Regions from separate parts of the Homo sapiens genome. Here all the other regions are linked to region 1. The links come from fine-mapping of genetic effects on gene expression. A gene starts in region 1. Each other region holds a variant in brackets. All regions are shown on one strand. Distances are from middle to middle.

Region 1 (5,153 bases):
TTTTGAAATAATTAGAAGGATACAAGGGCCAGAAGGAGCCTCATACATCATTTAGAAAAGGTTCTGGAGGAATTTTACTTTAATACAAATTAAACACCAGTGGCAGAATCATAAACATTTTCAAACTAATATAGATTAGAAAGGATGGCATTTGGGGATTATTATTTTTATAATCAGAAGGGCTTGAGAAAAAGTTTGCGGAAAATAAATACGTTTCAACATTTTTCTCTGATAATTCATTTTGACAACTACTGTGTTCATTTTGATAACTACTATATCACTTTATAAATGATGAAACTATTTCAAATGTAATGACTGTACTTTTCACAGTTTGTATGCCTATAATTTATGCAATGCCACACAATCAACCAAACAACTCTTAACTTTATTTTTACTTCAGTGTATTATTTAGAAATGATATAAGGAGGCCAGCCGCGTTGGCTCGTGCCTGTAATCCCAGCACTTTGGGAGGCCAAGGCGGGCAGATCACGAGGTCAGGAGATCCAGCCATCCTGGCTGAAACCCAACTCTACTAAAAAATAAATAAATAAATAAATAAAATTAGCCGGGCATGGCGGCATGCGCCTGTAGTCCCAGCTACTCGGGAGTCTGAGGCAGGAGAATGGCCTGAACCCGAGAGGCGGAGCTTGCAGTGAGCCGAGATCACGCCACTGCACTCCAGCCTGGGTGACAGAGCGAGACTCTGTCTCAAAAAAAAAAAAAAAAAGAAATCATATAAGGAAAAAAAGCCCTACAGTTTACTTTCTGGTTCTTGGTTATTATCAAAGGGCATTGGAAGGTTAAGCTGCTGTAATAGCTTTAAAAGGGGAATTTAAGGCCGGGCGCGGTGGCTCACACCTGTAATCCCAGCACTTTGGGAGGCCGAGGTGGGCAGATCACGAGGTCAAGAGACTGAGACCAGCCTGGCCAACATGATGAAACCCTGTCTCTACTAAAAATACAAAAATTAGCTGGTCGTGGTGGTGCGCATCTGTAGTCCCAGCTACTCAGGAGCCTGAGGCACAAGAATCACTTGAACCTGGGAGGTGGAGGTTGCAGTGAGCCAAGATTGTGCCACTGCACTCAAGCCTGGTGACAGAGCGAGACTCCATCTCAAAAAAAAAAAAAAAAAAAAAAAAGTGGAATTTAGTTAAGTTTGGGAGACAGAAAGAAGCCACGGCTCTCCTGCCTTCTTCCAAATATACTGAACTTCTGATATGTTTGATCAAATGAAATGCTCATGGTCTGGCATGATTATAGGTGCAAGCCTGTAATCCCAGCTACTAGGGAGGCTGAGGCAGGAGGATGACCTGAGCCCAGGAGTTTGAGGCTACAGTGCACAATGATTGTGCCTGTGAATAGCCACTGCACTCCACCTTGGGTGATATAGTGAGACCCACATCTCTACACACACACACACACACACACACACACACACACACACGAAGAAGAACATAAACACATCAAATGTGAGCCATTTTGCTGACTTGGGCATACAATAAATCCATATCTCTGGGTTCTAAAGATGTACCAATCTTGCAGTGAGCTGAGATCACACTACTGCACTCCAGCCTGGTCAACACAGCAAGACTCTGTCTCAAAAAAAAAAAAAAAAATAGTAGACCAGGCGCAGTGGCACACTCCTGTAATCCCAGCACTTTGGGAGGCCAAGGCGGGCGGATCACTTGAAGCCAGGAGTTCAAGACCCACCTGGCCAACATGGCGAAACCCCGTCTCTACTAAAAATACAAAAATTCACCAGGTGTGGTGGTGCATTCCTGTAATTCCAGCTACTCAGGAGGCTGAGGCAGGAGAATCACTTGAACCCAGGAGGCTACGGTTGCAGTGAGCCAAGATTGTGCCACTGCACTCCGGCCTGGGCAACAGAGCGAGACTCCATCTCAATAAATAAATAAATAAATAAATAAATAAAATAAAGATGTGCCAATCAAACAAGTGTTTGCTCTGTAGATGAGGTGAGTGCTCCTGATCAGATAGTATATTCAATAAAATAAGCATGTCATCAAACTAACTTTCTTGGCCTTTGTTCTTTGGTTGAAAAACTCCCGTTGACCTCATGAATACCACATTTATTAACCCCGGAAGACAACAGATAGCTAATGCAACATAAATATCTGTGGCTTTAAAAATACATATTATTATGTGTGCAGTCTACAAACACTTTCCTGAAATTGGTCTTCTGTGGGCAGTGATTTAAACTTTTCAACTTGGACGCTTTTCCTACTGGGGGCTGTAAAGATGATAACTCAGCCCTTACTCTTCAGTGTTTCTCATTCCCGTCTCCCCTACTTCGGAATGAAACACAATATCTTAAGCAAACAGAGCCCAAAGAGGCTGATCATTGGCTCTCATTGTCCCCTGATACTGTAGCCCCGCCCCTTTGGCTTGTGCTGACTAGCTGTTTATATTTTAGTAAGGGCCACCCTTTAACTCGGCAGCTTGATGACTATAATGGGCCCAGTTGTCTGCGGGCTGCGGGGAGCTAAGTCCCCAGATTGGAGGAGGCTGGCTCTGGTCTTCGATGCACAGGAGTGGCCGTTATGGAACGCAGGTAAGGACGCTTCTCAATGTGGGATAATTCTTTTTCTGGGCCAGCTGGTTAATCCGGGGCTGGGAGAAACAAGTTGTGATTGGGTTGCTACTTTTTCCTGGTTTTAATTTTTTCCCTGCAGAAGAGGGAAGGAAAAGACTGGGATTTGCTGACAAAGCTCACAGTGAGCTCTGTTAATCCAGGCAGGAAGGGAGTAAGGAAGCAAAAAATCGAGGGAGAGACACAGCTGGATTTGACACCAAAGCAACATGAATGTGGCAAAGCATAAGGCCAGTTCCAGTGATGTTGTGAGACTCAAATGCTGTTTTATTTCCTAACATAGGTAGTCACAGTCAGGAGCTTAGCTGGGCCTCTCCGGGGTTTCTGTAAGCCAGCTGCTAGCCGATGTAACTCAGTCGACCCCATTTGAAAGGACCTAATATCTGCTAGTATTTTCAAAGGGCAAACTGTAGTAGTCTTGCATGTTATAAATAGGTCTATTCAGAAATGTGGGAACAGTTTAGAGCAGACAGGAGACTGTAAAGTTTTACTGCCCCATAAAAGTGCTCAAAGGGTACTATGTCCCTCTGCCGTGCGACTGTGGAATGAAGAAATAGCCCCAGGTGAATAGAGCGTTTGTCCTTGACTACCCAAGTGAGAAGTCAGCAGAGCCTGGGGACGCCATGTGAGTCGGGGGTGAAGCCTGATGTGGGCTCAGCCAGCCACACCTCGGGGTGCTTGCTGGTTTCCGGGGTGTGAATGGGTGAGGGTGGAAAACCACTCAGGCACCGGTCTTTGGTGCCTGCTTTATCTCTTGGCTGGCCCATTCGGTGCTCAGTGAGGCACCTGTCGTAGCTCACGGGGTGCGCAAAGGGCAAGGAAAGGGTTGTGCTGTCATTGCGACCTGTAAGGTGGGGAGGGGGCTACAACATCTCGAGTCCTGGGAGTTGCTTTAGAAAGTCCTCCTCCTCCTGCTGAAAAAAAGAATCACCTACGGCAGCTTTGATCAGATAAGTTTCTGGTGAGCCCCGTGGTGTGGAGTCAGTGAACTTGCGGTTTGTGTTTGTTATCGACAGGAGCCTGATAAAATGAAAAGGTGAGGTTTAATTTTTACATAAAGCTAGAGGTGAACCATGGGACTTTAATACATTTAATGCTTTGAAAGTCTCCCCACCTCTCCAAATTCCCTCAACTTGTATCTATTATCTAGGTACACCTTGTTTAAAGCCACCATGCTGTTTGCGGATCCTGGAGGTATTAAGTCAGAATACAAAGGGTGTTTTTCAAATGAATTTGACGCCAAGCAACATGAATGCTTGAACCCATTGTATGAAAACAGGCAGTCTCTAAGTGAGGCCAGGTTCTCCTGGTGCGGTCCTAGAGCCCTGGAGAGGGATGAGTCACCCCACGAGGAGGTCCTGACAAGGAATGGAAATTCTGACTCTGCCAGTGAACTTTTGACTCTCCCAGGTGGGGTGGAGGCTCCAAAGGGAAAGGACAGGTGTGCATCATTCACCCTCCAGGCCCACCGCAGGCCTCACAAATCCCATTTGGTCAGGTCAATGCATTCTCACCTTCCCACCTAAGTAGGTGTCCCACAGTTTAACTCAATTCTGACACTAACTGCAGTGAGTGCAGACCCTGAGGTTTAAGGGCTCAGTCCTACCAGGCTGCCCCGACCTCAGAGGCCAGTTGCAGGCTGAAGGTTGTCACTTGTGCTTCTGACTAGCTGGCTATCCATGAGAAGTTCTCACGATCCTTCCTCAGGTAGATTACAAGCTGTGTAACTTTGTCTAACTTTGTGCTGTAAGTCAGAGATTGACTTCTTGGGGTCACTGTTTTGTTAGCATAGCTCACGGAACTCAGGGAGACACTTAATTCCATTTACCAGTTTATTATAAAGGGTATTACAAAGGATACAGTTGAATGAATACATACAGCCAGGTGAAGAGATGGCTAGGGAGGGTCTTGGAGCTTTCATGTCCTCTCCGGGCGCCACTCTCCCAGCGTCTCCATGTGTTCAGCTATCCAGAAGCCCTCCAGACCCGCTCCTTTGGGTTTTTATGGAGGCCTCATTACAAAGGCATGATTGATCAAACCATTGGCCATCGGTGATTGAGTCAACCTCCTGCCCCTCTTTGCTCCCTGGAAACAGGGTCAGGGGGTGTGTATGGGTGGAGTAGGGAGAAAGGGGCTGAAAGTTCCAACTCTCTAATCACTTGCTTGGTTCCCCTGGCAACCAGCCCCCTCCAGAGGCAATCTGGGAGCCCTCAGTCGTCAATCATCTCATTAGCATACAAAAAGGCTCTTTATCACTTTGTACATTCCAAGGGGTTTTCTTTCTTTCTTTTTTAAATTTGAGACAGGGTCTTGCTCCGTCACCCAGGCTGGAGTGCAGTGGCATGATCATGGCTCACTGCAGCCTTGACCCCTTGGGCTCAAGCGATCCTCCAGATCCTCCCGCCTCAGCCTACCAAAGTGCTGGGATTACAGGTGCATGCCCCCATGCCCAGCCAATTGCAAGGATTTTAAGAACTATGTGCCAGGAAGCAGAGACAAGACCAAATATATATTTCTTATTATAAATCACAATATCACACCT
Region 2 (5,153 bases), 130 kb after region 1:
TTTAACAATCCAATTAGAATAATGAACAAAAGGCGGCTGGGTGCTGTGGCTCACATCTGTAATCCCAGCACTTTGGGAGGCCAAGGCGGGTGGATGACCTGAGGTCAGGAGTTTGAGACCAGCCTGGCCAACATGGCAAAACTGCGTCTCTACTAAAAATACAAAAATTAGCTGGGTGTGGTGGTGTGTGCCTGTAATCCCAGCTACTTGGGAGGCTGAGGCAGGAGAATCACTTGAACCCAGAAAGCGGAGGTTGCAGTGAGCCATGATCACACCATTGCACTCCAGCCTGGGTGACAAGAGTGAAATTTCGTCTCAAAAAAAAAAAAAGAAAAACGAGCAAAAGGCATAAAGAGAAATTTTACTGAAGAGGATGTATACATAAAAAGATGTGCAATATCACTAGACATTAAGGAAGTACAAATTAAGACCATGGTGAGATATTACTGCACACTTATAAGGATAGCTAAAATTAAAAATATTAATAATGCCAAATGCTGGAGAGCATGTAGAGAAACCAGATCTCTCATGCATTGCTGGTAAAAATGCAAAACTACACAGTCAGCCTTGAAAATAGTTTGGTATTTCTTTAAAAACTAAACATATACTTACCATACAACCCATAAATTATACTCCTGGCTGTCTGTCCCAGAGAAGTGAAAACTTACGTCCACACAAAAACCTGTACATTGTTGTTCATAGAAGATTTATTTGTAATAGCCCAAAACTGAAAATAACCCAGATGTCTTTCAATAGGTTCATGATTAAACAAACTGGTATGTCTATACTATGGAATATGACTTGGCATTAAAACGGAACAGACTAATGATACACTCAACAACTCTGATGCATCTCAAGGGCATGATGCTGAGTGAAAAAAAGCCATTTTCAGAAGGTTACATACTATATGATTCTATTTGTGTACCATTCTCAAAAAAATAACAAAATTATAGAGAAGGAAAACAGATTAGTGGTTGGCAAGGATTAGAGATGTGAGGAAAGGGGAGTAAGTAGCAAGAGGGAGATCTTTATGTTGATGGGATAATTCTGTACGTTGGTTGCAGTGGTAAATCTACACACATGATAAAATGACATAAAACTGTACACACACAACCCAAAGTCAATGTATTGGGTTTTGTGTGGTACCATAATTATAGAAGATGTGACCATTGGAGGAAACTGAGTGAAGAGTACACAGGACCTTTCTCTACTATCTTTGCCACTTCCTATGAATCTATAATTATTTCAAAATAAAAATTTAACAGAAGTAACAAAGCAGAAACCGATAGACCAAAAGAAAGTGATTTCACATCCAAACATATAATCAGCCCCCCGTACCCCCAAATCTCACATTTGTGAATTCAACCAAATACAGATCAAAAATTTCAGGAAAAATAATTTGTTAAATACAATGATTAAAAATAATACGAATTGTAAAAATACATAATATTATTTACATTATATAGCATGCTCTAGGTATTAGAAGTAATCTAGAGATGATTTAAAATATATGGGGGGATGTGCACAGGTTAGGTGCAAATACTAGGCTATTTTATATAAAGGACTTGAGAATCTGAAGATTTTGGTATCAGTCTCCTGGGATACCAGGGGATGGCTTTACCTGTTGAACCATTGACTTCTTACAACCCACTCTTTTCTAAAAAGGAAAAAATAATTTCTACTGTCTCATTGCTATTATGACTCAGGAACATTCTTCCATCATCTAGTTGCTGATTTTTCCCCTTATAAGTGTGGGGGAGGAAAAGGATGTGAGGCTGGAAGTGGAATAAGTGAAGATTTAACATGAACAATAAGCTTCATTCATTTTTAAGCACCATCTAGGGCCCTTCCCACCCAATATTTGTTGTGACCACTATAGGAATACAAGTGAAAGCTAGCAGCCAATGGCATATTCTTCTCCACCACCTGGAAATAGATGGGGAGAGGAGAGAAAGCAAGGTAAGTGGAGAGTAGGATTATAGATATGATAGTGACATAAACAAAGACATATCCATAGATGGATAGATGATTACTTAAGTGCTTTTTTGTTTTGCTTTTTTTTTTTTCTGCTTTTTTTTTTTAAGAGACGGGGTCTCGCTATTTTGCTCAGGCTGTTCTTAAACTCCTGGCCTCAAGGGATCCTCCCACCTTCACCTACCAAAGTACTGGCATTACAGATATAAACCACTGCACCTGGCTTATGCTAATGTTTTAAATATAAAAGCATATATACTGGGCATGGTGGCTCATGGCTATTATCTTAGCACTTTGGGAGGCTGAATCAGGAGAATCGCTTGAGCCTACGAATTAAAGGTTACAGTAAGCTGTCTTCACACCACGGCACACCAGCCTGGGTGTCAGAGTGAGACCCTGTCAAAAAGAAAGAAAGAAACAGAAAAACATTAGCATCAAGAGTTTTCTAACCCATGTTCAGCATATTACTATAACTTCTCCTATAACATTCTGACTTCCTATTTGTTTACAGGTTTTTGATGGGAGTGGATCATTTTTGTCCTACATTAACACATCTGCTGACCCACTCTATGGCCCCCAAGGCCTGGCCCTAACTTCAGATGGTCATGTTGTGGTTGCAGACTCTGGAAATCACTGTTTCAAAGTCTATCGATACTTACAGTAATGGTGGGCAGGTGGATACCCGCTTCCATGGTCTTGCACTATAAACTGGAATGGATTTCTCAATGCGGGACCAGATTATGACTAGAGTTTTTATGCCAGAAGGAATCATTGGTGAACTTTCCAAGGTTATTTCTGAATGTAACAATTTCCTTAAAAATGACTTATCCAATTTCTGTATTTCACCTTTAGGGTTAAAAAAAACTCTTCTACTGAATCTATAAAAACTGCAGTTTTACATCTGTGAACTATGGCTTAAGGGACAGGATTTATGTAGCTAAACTAATTTTGCAAATCAAACAGACACT[T/TA]AAAAAACTAGCATATGTAAAGGTATTCGTTAATCCTGTGAATGGTAGCTTTTGCACAGAACTTCCAAAAGCAAAACAAAAACAAAATCTATTGTAGTTATATACTTCATTTAACCTAGGTCACAAGACCCAGGGAATCTTCTAACCTCACTTTTACAGTAGGTATTACTCTTGTGACATTTTTTTGGTTATCAACAACTAAATATAAATTACTTTGGAAAAAGTAAGGCTGTCTTGCAAAATGATCCCAGCTCTGATTAGCAGCCCTCTGGAGTTCAGAACTTAAGTATCAGTGCAAATTTCTCAACCTTTCTGGGTTAGACAAAGATCCTTTTTTGTGTGTTCTTTTCACCACCCCTTTGGCTCACCTTGTATCAGCAAACAAAGTACTTCTTCAGGGAAACCTGAAATTTCTAATGCCTTGAAAAGCATATTACAAAAGTAATGCTACCTTTTGGGAAACAAACTGCCCCGTTAACTCCAGATCATTGCACTGGAATGTAATCAAGAAAGTTAGTCATGTTTTATGTACCATGTTTTCACACGTGTCTCTTCTCTTCGACTTCCTGAAAGCGAAAGCTTTACCTCCTGCAAATGTCAGCACATGTAGTAGGACACCAGTATCCTAGGACAGAGAGCCATAAGTAGCCCTTTGGAGGACTGATGGTGTCAACCAAAGGCATGTGATTGATTAATGATTCCCCCTTAGAAAGCAAGTGTTACCAAAGTTGTGTTATCTTGAAAGCATTACAGGTAAGGGCATGTTATGGTTATTTATCATTGTTTAATGAATAGTAGAGGTGTCAAGGGACTATGTATACATGATTAGGGTAAGATAGAATGTATTATATATATATATATATACACACACACATATATATAGCTGAATCTTTGGTGTATTGAAATAGGCAGCACTCTGAAAGACAGAAGCTTCGTCCAGCCACTCTTCAGCACATTCCTTTACTAAGCAGTTTAAAGCCGTCCTAGTGGAGCAAGCCCTAAAGCAGATTTAATTTTTGCCATTTTCCAAGAATGACGGTGGTGGCTTTTAGTCAGAAAATGGCCTTCTGTGCTTTCAAAAAAAAAAACAAAAAAAAAACCACACACACACATAAAAAACCCAACAGGTCAAAATAAAAGTTGAACTTGAGTTACATTTAATTTAAATATAAATGCATTTTGAGAAATGTTAAGAACAATTTAGTCAATCGTTCATCTGTCATTGGTACTGTAAAATAAGCTGTGGTCTATTTCCACTGTTTAATTTTCTACTCAGTTCTACCAAATAGGATGTCATGTTTGACATTTTTGATAGTGACTTTGGGGTCTTCTTCACTGAAAGCACCTTAGAACTGTACTATAAGAAAACATTTCCCCTATGTATAATTATATGAATGTGATGTTTATTGCTTATTAATTTATAATTCAGTCATTCTCTATATAGGACTTCTTAAAATTTAGAAGGGAAATCTAGCTACTTCAAATTGTCTGTTAAATTTATTATGCCCAAATCAACCTCTGAAAAAAGGTTTTTCCAGGAAGATTTACATTTAGGTTTAATATTTTTTTAGTTAGGTAGAGTTTTAAAAAATACTTGAGCCTGTCCGTGATAAAGCTATAAAATTCAATAACTTTTTAGAATGTTAAATGAAGACACTGTTTCCTAACATCAGTGAGATACATCTTTGAATTTAAACATTCATATTTACTGAGTACCTACTAGGTACCAAGTACTCTTTTAGGCACTGGAAATACAGTGATGGACAAAACAGGTAAAAAATCGCTGCCCCCTCAGAGCTGACATTCTGGGGTGGGAATTTCATTTTGCCACGTACTAACGTTCTGCACAAAAGACAGGCTAGACTCTTGTCTAGATTGTTTAAAAGAAACTTTTCAAATTGGTTACATTAATTTTAGTTTATTTTCACAAGTAAAAATGGCTTTTTATTTAGATTCTTTCTGTCCCAGGCTGTTGATCTTAAAACTAGTTGATTTAAAGAGTTTTTTTGCACAACATTTCAATTATATTTGTGAACTTAGAAATTAACTTACAATCTAACCAGCCATCATATCATATCCTATCAGGCTAGATATCTCAATAGTAGACTGAATACAAAGCTAATTTTTTTTACATGTCAATATTGGCACAAACTGGAATGAAAGAATAGTTTGATTCAGACCTGCTCCACTATGTGTTGCTAAAACACATGC
Region 3 (5,153 bases), 30 kb after region 1:
GCTGACATGATGCTCAAAGGAAATGCTCATTGGAGCATTTCGGATTTCAGTCTTTTGGATTGCGGATGCTCAACCAGTCAGTATCTGCACATATTCCAAAATATGAAAAAAAACCAAAATCCAAAAATACTTCCGGCCCCAAGCATTAGGATAAAAGATACTCAACTTGTAGTATTTCCAAATACAGTCACAATCTGAGGTACTGGGAGACATCAATATATCTTTTTGGAGGGAGGGGGACACAATTCAACTCTAACAGCCACCTTTAAAGAGTCATGAGTAGCCAGGCGAGGTGGCTGACGCCTGTAATCCCAGCACTTTGGGAGGCCGAGGCAGGCAGATGGATCGAGACCAGCCTGGCCAACATGGTGAAACCCCGTCTCTACTAAAAATACAAAAATTAGCTGGTCGTGGTGGCGCACGCCTGTAGTCCCAGCTACTTGGCAGGCTGAGGCAGAAGAATCGTTTGAACCTGGGAGGCAGAGGTTGCAGTGAGCCAAGATCATGCCACTGCGCTCCAGCCTGGTGACAGAGTGAGGCTGCATCTCAAAACAATAAATAAATAATAAATTTTCAAAAATAAAAAAAATTGAGTCGTGACCAGCACAGTGAGAGGCAAAGAGGTGTTTTAGTGAGAGTGGACTGACCCCAGCATGCAGAATATGCTGGAAGGAAGGGAGGGAACTAGAGGCCATAGGTTGGGGCGGGGGTGGAGAAAAGTAGATAAAATCAAGACACATTTCAAAGGAAGAGTTGAAAAGATTTAAGTAGTAGCAATGGTAATGTGTCGTTAAGTCTAGAACATAACAGTTTACAGAACATTCCCATGTCTCCTTTCTCCTTTGTACCTGACTTAGGGGCTGAGTGGTGTCTTCAGGGTTTCTGGCCCTGGGAGAGAAGCTCCAGTGATAAGGTCAGCCACTCCAGTGAGAGTGGCTAGCAAAGGCAGCAGGGGGAGACTCAGAGCTGCAGGTGCTGAATTGGAGGTGGTGACAGAGCCGGGTGGAGCTGTCCCCTGGGCCACTGGAAACCTAAGCCAGCTGCCCCCTCTCTAGACATAGATTTGGAAGTCAAATGCATTCCAGCAGTCATCTAATCACAAGAGTGGGTGCGGCCTCTGAGTGAGTGAATGTAGGAGAAGAGCAGTGGCTTGATGTTTTGGCAAATTCCCGGAGTTAGAAGATTGCTAAGAATAAGGATAAGAAGCATTTAAAGTAGAGGAGAAATGGTAAAGTTCTCTACTTCCAAAGCCAAAGAAAAAGAGTTTCCAGTAGAAGGTGGGAGGAGAAGAGGGACGACTGGGAGAAGACTTTGGTTTAGCTAAAATGAGGACATGGGGAAAAGAAAGTGCCAAAGAAAGGAAGGAAGGAAGTCAGATGATAATTACAGGGTGGCAGGATTTAGAAAATGGTGTGGGGGGTTTTTATTGGAAAGTTGTGGGGTTTTCTTTTTGAGATATTGATTACTTTACTTACAGTCAAATTCACCTTTTCTGATGTTCAATTCTGTGAATTTTGACAAATGAATATAGTTCTGTAACCATGACTACTGTTGAGATAGGACCAATTATATCACCCCCAAAATTCTTTGTTGCTGAGGTGCTTTTTTGTTTTTTTAGAGGAAACCAATGTGTATTTGAAGTCAGAAAGGAAGAAACCCATGGGAAAGGAGGAGATGATGGTGTTAAAGAGGAAAGGGTTGAAGGAGTGAGGCGTGGAGGTGGTAGGGAGGCAGGTGGGCCACTGAGAATGCTTCAATTTTGGTGGGAAGGAACATTTCCTCTCTTCCTATGAAGTAGAAGGAAGGATGGATGCATACATTCAGGGTCTATGATATCTTTTTATGGTTAATTCCAAAACTCCTGCCAGCAAAACCATTTCCTGCTGAGAGAGATGTTAAATGTTGCATTGCATAATTTCTGCCACGGAGGTATGATTTCCTGTTGCAATCACTGTTTGCAGGAATTACATGCAAGGGGAGTACAGGCACCGGGCTGCTTTGCTTTGGGATATGTGCCCAAATCCTGCTCTAATGTAATACCATAGCAATTTTAGAACTAACAACTTTAAAATTCTTCAAAGTTAAGTGCATCTGCATCTTTTCCTGCACCATACAGTGAGAAAGCTTGGCAGCAATAATGGCTTCAATCCCCATAAATACTCCTGACAGGTGTAAATGAGTCACTGCGGAAGAGCTAGCTTCCACAGACATGTCCTTGGGGCATTATTTGGCAGAAGAGATTGAATTCTCATCATTTTATGCTCAAGACTCACAACCACTCAGAAGTGCAGTTTTCTCCTTGACATCTATGATGTTGCTTGCATCTCCCTTTATCCTTGCAGTCACACTGTGATTCAGGGGTGGGAGGAAAGAAGGTGTTGGATAGCGATTCTCAAACTGTGGGCTTCATGAGCGGGTTGTGAATCAAGTTAGTGAGTTGCAGCCAGTTTACTGAAAAATGAAATAGAATAGGAAATAGCAGAGGGCATCGGGCTAAATGTGATCTCATGCAACCTTTGTTTCAGTGAAATATATGTATCTATTACTGGACTGCAACATAAAATACATTTCTGCTGCGGATCTCAGTCACAAAAGTTTGGAAACTGAATGTAGAAGTATGCAGATCCTTTATGACCCTAGGCAGGCTACTGAATGTCCTTGTGGCTTAGAGTCATTGTCTGTAAAATGAGGCTCATAAGTTACCTACTCTGTATGGCTGTTGAGAGTGTTAAACAGAAAATGCATAGGTAGCATTAGGTGCTGTGCCTGGTTAACAGTCAATGCTTGTGATGATGATTTGTTTTCCTGCCTAGATCTATAGGTCAAATTTTTATTCAATGCCCAGACCTTTCTTCTGAGCCTAGAACTATAACTCAGCAGCTATTTGACATCTCCAGGCAGTTGTTCTACATGCATCTCCAACTCAGCATGTCCAAAGTGGAACTCAATTAATTGCCACTTTCTCTCTCCAATTCTTAACCTTCCCCGTGCCCTGTCCCACCCTCGAGCACACAGACCCCTCTGCTGCCCCCAGCTGTGTACTTCATATGTGGTGCTTCCAAACTGCTTCTAGTTGGTCTTCCTCCACTAACACACATATGTCTTCAG[G/C]TTTCCTCTGCCTTGAATGCTTGTTCCACTTTTTTGTTGTATGACTCACTCTTTCCCATCCTTCAGGGCTTAATACAAATTGGTTTTCCAGTCAGAAAGATGTAGGCTTGAAGTCACTAATCATTGGTGACAGCTGTGTGACTCTGAGAAGCAAATTTCTGAAGCACTCAAAGTCAGTTTGTTCCTCTGTAAAATGGGAAAAGCTGTGCCTGCTTCATAGAGTTAAGATAATTTTTTTTTTTTTTGAGACAAGGTCTTGCTCTGTTGCCCAGGTTGGAGTGCAGTGGCATGATCACGGCTCACTACAGCCTTGACCTCCCGAGCTCAAGGAATTCTCCTGCCTCAGCCTCCCAAGTAGCTGGGACTACAGGCAGGCACAACCATGCCTGCCTAATTTTTTGTATTTTTCATAGAGATGAGGTTTCACCATGTTGCCCAGGCTGGTCTCGAACTCCTCAACTTAAGTGATCCACCTGCCTCAGCCTCCCAAAGTGCTGGGATTACAGGTGTGAGCCATGGTGCCCCGCCAAGTTAAGAGAATTAAATGAATTCTTGTGTGTATAGAATAGTACCCAGCACATACAGAGTAGTTAATAAATGGCTGTGATTCTTTTTCATTTTTAAAGAAGGCTCAATTCACCTCTTTCTAGAGCTTCTTACAGACCTGAATGTGTCAGGTTGTTGAAGAGCTTTGCAGTTTTGCACCAGCTATTCCTTCTGATCAGATTACCTTTTCCACACTTCTTCCTTTGACCAAGCCCTACTCCTCCCTCAAGGCTCAACCCAAGTGTCACCTCCTCCGGGACCCTGCCAACATCCTGTGCTCACCTCCATCAGAATTCTTGACCACCTAAACTATGATTACCTTCTTTCCCCCTAGATTCTAAGTCTCCTGAGGGCTCCATGTGACATGTGTCGTGGGAGGGATCCGGTGGGGATCAAATCATGGGGGCAGTTTCCCCCATGCTGTACTCATGATTGTGAGAGAGTTCTCTTGAGATCTGATGGTTTTATAAGCATCTCGCATTTCTCCTGCTTGCACTCATTCTCCCTCCTGCCACCCTGTGAAGAGGTGCCTTCTGCCATGATTGTAAGTTTACTGAGGCCTTCCCAGTCCTGCAGAACTGTGAGTCAATTAAACCTTTTTTTTCTTTATAAATTACCCAGTGTCGGGTATTTCTTCATAGCAGCATGGGAATGCATGGATACAGTTAAGGCCATCCCCAACATGGCTTCTATTGCATGTTCTAGCCTTTTCTTCTACTTATCCTCACCTTGTACCTCATACCATGGAAAACTAGGCTCCTTACTCCCTCACTGTGCCCCATACCTCATTTCCTTGTATGCCTATTCATGCTGGCTCTTTCTGTTTAGCCCCACAAACCCACTAAAGCCCTCTCAAATGCTACCACATGACAATTCTAGAACCTTTAGTGATCTACTTTTTTTAAACAAACAGTAGTAGTTGTCCTCAATTCTGCTTTGCATCCCACAGCAACCCACTATGGACTTTTCTTGTGGAGAAGATTGTCCTTTATACAGCAGTTTCTTTACATACTTGTTTTTTTATGGCAAGTTGTTTGAGTCTGAGGATTGTGTCTTTTTCTTTTCTTTTCTTTTCTTTTCTTTTTCCTTTCTTTTCTTTTCTCTTGAGACAGGGTCTCACTCTTGTCACCTTGGCTGGAGTGCAGTGGTACAATCACAGCTCACTGCAGCCTCGACCTCCTGGGTTCAAGAGATCCTCCCAACTCAGCCTCCTCAGTAGCTGGGACTATAGGTGTGTACCACCATACCTGGCTAATTTTTAAATTTTTGGTAGAGATGGGGGTCTCACTATGTTGCCTAGGCCTGGTCTCAAACTCCTAGGCTTAAGCAATCCTCCTGCCTGGGCCTCCCAAAGTGCTCATGTAATATGCATGAGCCACCTCGCACAGCCAGAGGATTATGTCTTAAACATCTTTGTAAACTTACAGTATCAAGGACATTACATTGCTTGTCTTTTCTCATAAGTGTTTGAGGAAACAAATAGAATTGAAAATCAGCTA
Region 4 (5,153 bases), 83 kb after region 1:
TATGTTCTGGATTATTATACCCTTATCAGATATATGACTAGCCATATTTTCTCCCATTTTGTGGGGTTTCTTTTCACTTTCTTATTAGTGTCCTTTGATTCAAAAATACTTTTAATTTAATGAAGCCTAATTTCTCTATTTTTTTCTTTTGTTGCTTGTGCTTTTGGTGTCATAGCTTAGAATCCATTGCTGATTCAAGGTCATGAAAATTCACCCCTGTTTCCTTCTAAGATTTTTATAGTTTTAGCTTACATTTAGGTCTTTTATGTATCTTGAGTTAATTTTTGTATGTGGTTTGAAGGAAGGGTTAAATTTCATTCTTGTACATGTGAATTTCTAGTTACCTCAGCATAATATGTTGAAAAGGCAATTTTTCCCATTGAGCTGTGTTGACACCCTTGTCAAGAATCAATTGACCATGGATGTATGGGCTTCTTTCTGTACTTTCCATCTTATTCCATTGATCTATATGCCTATTCTCATGCCAGTACTACATTGTTTTGATTACTGTAGCATTATAGTCAGTTTTGAAATTGGTAACTATGAGTCCTCCAATTTTGTTCTTTTTCAAGATTGTTTTGGCTATTTAGTAGTTTTCAGTATTCAAGTCTTGCACTTCCTTGGTTCAATTTATTCCCAACTATGTTATATTCTTTTTGATAATATTGTAAATGGATTTTTTTAAAAAAATAGAGATAGGTCTCACTATTTTGGCCAGCCTGGTCTTGGGGCAAGCAATCCTCCTGCCTCAGCCTCCCAAAGTCCTGGGATTACAGGCATGAGCCACCATGCCTAGCTGGGAATTGTTTTCTTAATTTCACTTTTGGATTATTCATTGTTAGTGTTTAGAGATACAACTGATTTTTGTTTGTTAATCTTGTATCCTGCAACTTTGCTGAATTCATTTATTAGCTCTAATTGTGTGAATGTGTGTGCGTGTGTGTGTGTGTGTGTGTATTCTTTAGGATTTTCTGTATATAAGATCATGTCATCTCTGTATAGAGAAATTCTTAATTCTTCCTTTCCAATTTGGATGCATTTTATTTCTTTTTCTTGCCTAAATGCCCTGGTCAGCACCTTCAGTACACCGTTGACTAGAAGTGATAAGAGTGAATATCCTCTTGTTCTTGATTAAGTATGATGTTAGCTGTGGGTTTTTTGTAGATGCTCTTTATTAGGAGGAGGAAGTTCCCTTCTGTTTCTAGTTTGGCATGAAAAGATATTGGATTTTGTTAAATGCTTTTCCCACATTAATTCAGATGATAATGAGTTTTTTCTTTCATTCTATTAATGTGATGTATTACATACAGTAATTTGTCTAGGTAAGCCACCCTTGCATTCCTGGGATAAATCCCACCTGCTCATGATATATAATCTCTTTAATATACAGCTGGATTCAGTTTGCTAGCATTTTATTAAGAATTTTTTCATCCATATTTATAAGGGTTATTGGTCTGTAATTTTCTTGTGGTATCTTTGGCTTTGGTATCAGGGAAATACTGGCCTAATAGAATGAGTTAGGAAGTATTACCCCTCAATCTCTTCTATTTTTTTTTAAGAGTTTAAGGAAGATTGGTGTTAGTTCTTCTTAAAATATTTGGTTGAATTCACCAGTGAAGCCATCTGGTCCTGGGCTTTTCTGTGTTGGAAGTTTCCTGATTATTGATTCAATCTCCTTACATATTACAGGTCTATTCAGACTTTGTATTTCTTCATGTCAGTTTTGATAGTTTGTGTGTTTTTAGGAATTTGTCCATTTCATCTAAGTTATTCAATGTGTTAGCATAAAACTATCCACAGTATTCTGTTATAATCCTTTTTATTTCTATGATGTCAGTAGTAATTTCCCCACCACTTTCCTTCCTGATTTTTGTAATTTGAGTCTTCTTTCTCTCTTCTCCCACACCACCCCTGCCACACACACACACCCACCACCCCGCACCCCCCCACCATCTCACTCTCTCTCTCTCTCTGGTCAGTCTAACTAAAGTTTTATCAATTTTATAATATCCTTTCTGTCAATTATATACTATCCAACTTTTGTCTTAAGTCTATTTTTTCTGATATTAGAATAGCCACTCTAGCTCCCTTTTGGTTACAGTTTGCATGAAATATTTTTTTCATTCTTTCACTTTCTTTTTTTTCTTTTCCTTTTTCTCTCTCTCTTTTTTTAAGAGATGGTCTTGCTCTGTTTCCCAGGCTGGAGTACAGTGGCATGATCATAGCTCACTGCAGCCTCATAATCTTGGGTTCAATT[G/C]ATATTCCTGCCTCAGCCTCCTGAAGGCCAGGACTACAGGCACACGCCACTATGCTCAGCTAATTTTTGTATTTTTTTAATAGACAGGGTCTCTCACTATGTTTTTCAAGCTGGTCTTGACCTCCTGGACTCAAGCAATCCTCCTGCCTCTGTCTCCCAAAGTACTGGGATTACAGGCATGAGCCACCATATCTGGGCCATCCTGTCACTTTCAACCTATTTGAGTCTCTGAATCTAAAATTAGTCTCTTATAGAGAGCATATAGTTGGATTATGTTTTCAATCCAATCTGCCAGTATCAGCCCTTTGATTGGAGAGTTTAATCCATTTAAATTAATTAACTTAATTACTGAAAAGAAAGGCTTTCTTTCCTTTTGCCATTTACTATTCTTTTTCTGTATGGCATATCTTTTTGTTCCTCTATTCCTCCATTACTGCCTTCTTTTATGTTTAATAGATATTTTCTAGTGAACCATTTTGATTCCCTTCTCATTTCTTTTACTATACATATTTTTATTTTTCTTTATTGTTTGCCCTGAGGGTTATAATTAACATTTTAGCTTATAATGATTTAATTCAAATTAATACCAACATAATTTCAATAGTATGTAAAATCCTTGCTTCTTTTAGCTTGTATTTATATGTTGTATGCTCAGCTACATAGGTTTGTAATTATAGATTATGCTGTTTTATGCAGTTTTATTTTATGTCATGTAGGAGTTAGAAAACTAAAATACATTAATACTGACCTTTATATTTATCTGTGTAGTTACCTTTACCTGCTTTCCTTGTTTTTTTCATGTGGACCCAGGTTACTTTGTAGTGTATCAAATCAGGTCAGCTTGCAGGAATCCCTTTGGCATGACTTGTAGGGAAGGTATACTAGCAACAGACACTCAGTTTTTGTATTTCTGGTAATGTGTTAATTTTTCCTTCATGTTTGAAGGATAGTTTTGCCAGATAAAAAATTATTAGTTGTCAGGTTTATTTTTTTTTCAGCAGTTTGAATATATTACCCCATTGATTTCTGGCCTCTATAGTTTCTGATGAGATATCTGCTATTAAAAAATCTGCAGCCGGGCATGGTGGCTCGCACCTGTAATCCCAATAATTTGGGAGGCTGAGGCAGGCGGATCACCTGAGGTCAGGAGTTTGAGACCAGCCTGGCCAACATGGTGAAACCTTGTCTCTACTAAAAATACAAAAATTAGCCAGGGATGGTGGCGCGCACCTGTAATCCCAGCTACTCAGGAGGCTGAGACAGGAGAATCGCTTGAACTTGGGAGCCAGAGGTTGCAGTGAGCCAAGATTGAGCCACTGCACTCCAGCCTGGGTGACAGAGTGAGACTCATCTTAGAAAAAAGAAAAAAAATCTGCTTATGGAATATTTCTTATACAAGATGAGTCACCTCTGTCTTGCTGCTTTCAAGATTCTCTCTTTGTTTTTGTCTTTTTATGGTTTGGTTATACTGTTTCCTGGTTTGGATGTCTTTGAGTTTCCTGTTTGGAGTTTATTAAGTTTTTTGGATGTGTAGATTTGTGTCTTTTATCAAATTTGGGAAGTTTCCAGCCATTACTTTTGCAAATATCGGTTCTTTCCCTTTCTCTCTTCCTCTCCTCTGGGACTCTCATTAGGTATATTTGGTACACTTGATGGTGTCCCACGGGCCTCTTAGGTTTTGTTACTTTTTCTTCCTTTTTTTTTTTTCCTGCCTCACAGACTGTATAATCTCAATAGGCCCATCTTCAAGTTAACCTTCTTCTTCCTGCTTGAATTTTCTGTGGAACTTTTCTAGTGAATTTTTCATTGCAGTTATATTTTTTAACCCTACAATATTTCTATTTGGCTTTTAAAAAATAATTCTTATCTCTCTATTAATATTCTCCATTTAGTGAGACATTGTTCTCATAGTTTTTTATATATGGTTTCCATTAGCTCTGTGAGCATATATGAAAGAGTTAAAGTCAAGTAAGTCCAATCTGGGCTTCTTTAGGGAGAGTGCCTATAAATTTCTTTTATTCCTCTTTGTGAACTTTGTCCTTTTTTGTGTGCTTCACTTTTTTCCATTGGAAACTGAACATTTAAAGTACTATATTGTGGCAACTCTGGAAATCAGAGTCTCCCCTCTCCCTAGGGTTTTTTGTTGATGATTATTATAGTTTTTTGCTGTTGTTGTTTGGTGACTTTTCTAAACTAATTATTTTATATTTTTTTCGTTCCCCACTTTTATTATCCAATGCAACTAATTTTGTAAAGTTTGTATGTTTTGTCATATGTGGCTAATGAAGTCTGTTCCAGTAGATTAGCTACCAACCAGTGACCTGACATAGATTTTCTTATGCTGCTGTTTTCAGTAACATCACTTCCCTGTAATCATTTAAAAATATGAATTAAAAAGAAGGATAATAATAGTAATGGATGCTGATCTTTTTTCATACATGATGAACTCTGGTCTTGAGGATTTTTTACATTTTTCGCGACTCTATATTATTTTGCATCCTTTTCTGTCTTCCAATGAGTATTCTTTGTCATCTCGTTTCTTATACTGCTGGGGAACTTCAACTCAGACCACAAAATGCAACAAATATGATATAGTATTTGCAACTTCTAAATGCAATGTGCACACTGATTCCCAAGTAAAATTTGCCATTGATCTAGACCCATTCTAGACATGAGGCCATGCTCCCTTCTTCCAGTGAAGATGTGGGAACTCAGTCCCAGGCTAGATTGGTTTGGGAAGAGTGCCATTGGATTGACTAAGCACTGTTAATGTGGCATATTCCCTCAGTCCATACACTTATATTTGCCCCAACACCCGAAATAACCTGAGGGAAGAAGTCTTTTCACATTCTGTTTTTGGGCTGTCCTCTGGTACATGTGACTGGCAGTGACAACC

Direction of the effects. Alleles are on the strand shown, and positions count from the first base shown. SD is a standard deviation of normalised expression in the study named. Not every link is listed here.
In carriers of allele TA in region 2, the expression in prefrontal cortex of the gene that starts at base 2,455 in region 1 tends to be lower than with T alone (small effect, 0.27 SD a copy in ROSMAP).
For the expression in esophagus mucosa of the gene that starts at base 2,455 in region 1, allele C in region 4 goes with a lower level than allele G (small effect, 0.25 SD a copy in GTEx).

What was found. PIP is the estimated chance that this variant, and not a neighbour inherited with it, causes the effect. A credible set is the group of variants that fine-mapping cannot tell apart.
Region 2: its variant is the best candidate, but not a certain one, in a credible set for the expression of TRIM2 in prefrontal cortex (ROSMAP, PIP 0.76).
Region 3: its variant is the best candidate, but not a certain one, in a credible set for the expression of TRIM2 in blood mononuclear cells (TOPMed, PIP 0.89).
Region 4: its variant is the best candidate, but not a certain one, in a credible set for the expression of TRIM2 in esophagus mucosa (GTEx, PIP 0.72).

What each region holds. Positions count from the first base shown.
Region 1 is chr4:153,201,989-153,207,141 of GRCh38, forward strand. It overlaps TRIM2 (tripartite motif containing 2), which reads left to right and starts at 2,455. Exons shown (of 12, transcript NM_015271.5): 1 at 2,455-2,572. The coding sequence starts at 2,543. RefSeq lists an enhancer at 4,006-4,911.
Region 2 is chr4:153,332,329-153,337,481 of GRCh38, forward strand. It overlaps TRIM2 (tripartite motif containing 2), which reads left to right. Exons shown (of 12, transcript NM_015271.5): 12 at 2,486-5,153. The coding sequence ends at 2,638. Among named protein-coding and RNA genes, the nearest start is that of MND1, 9.8 kb to the right of the region's middle. The variant T/TA (reference allele first, on the strand shown) is at 2,943.
Region 3 is chr4:153,231,950-153,237,102 of GRCh38, forward strand. The region is part of intron 1 of TRIM2 (tripartite motif containing 2); the gene reads left to right. Among named protein-coding and RNA genes, the nearest start is that of TRIM2, 30 kb to the left of the region's middle. The variant G/C (reference allele first, on the strand shown) is at 3,109.
Region 4 is chr4:153,284,825-153,289,977 of GRCh38, forward strand. All of the region lies in intron 3 of TRIM2 (tripartite motif containing 2), which reads left to right. Among named protein-coding and RNA genes, the nearest start is that of MND1, 57 kb to the right of the region's middle. The variant G/C (reference allele first, on the strand shown) is at 2,258.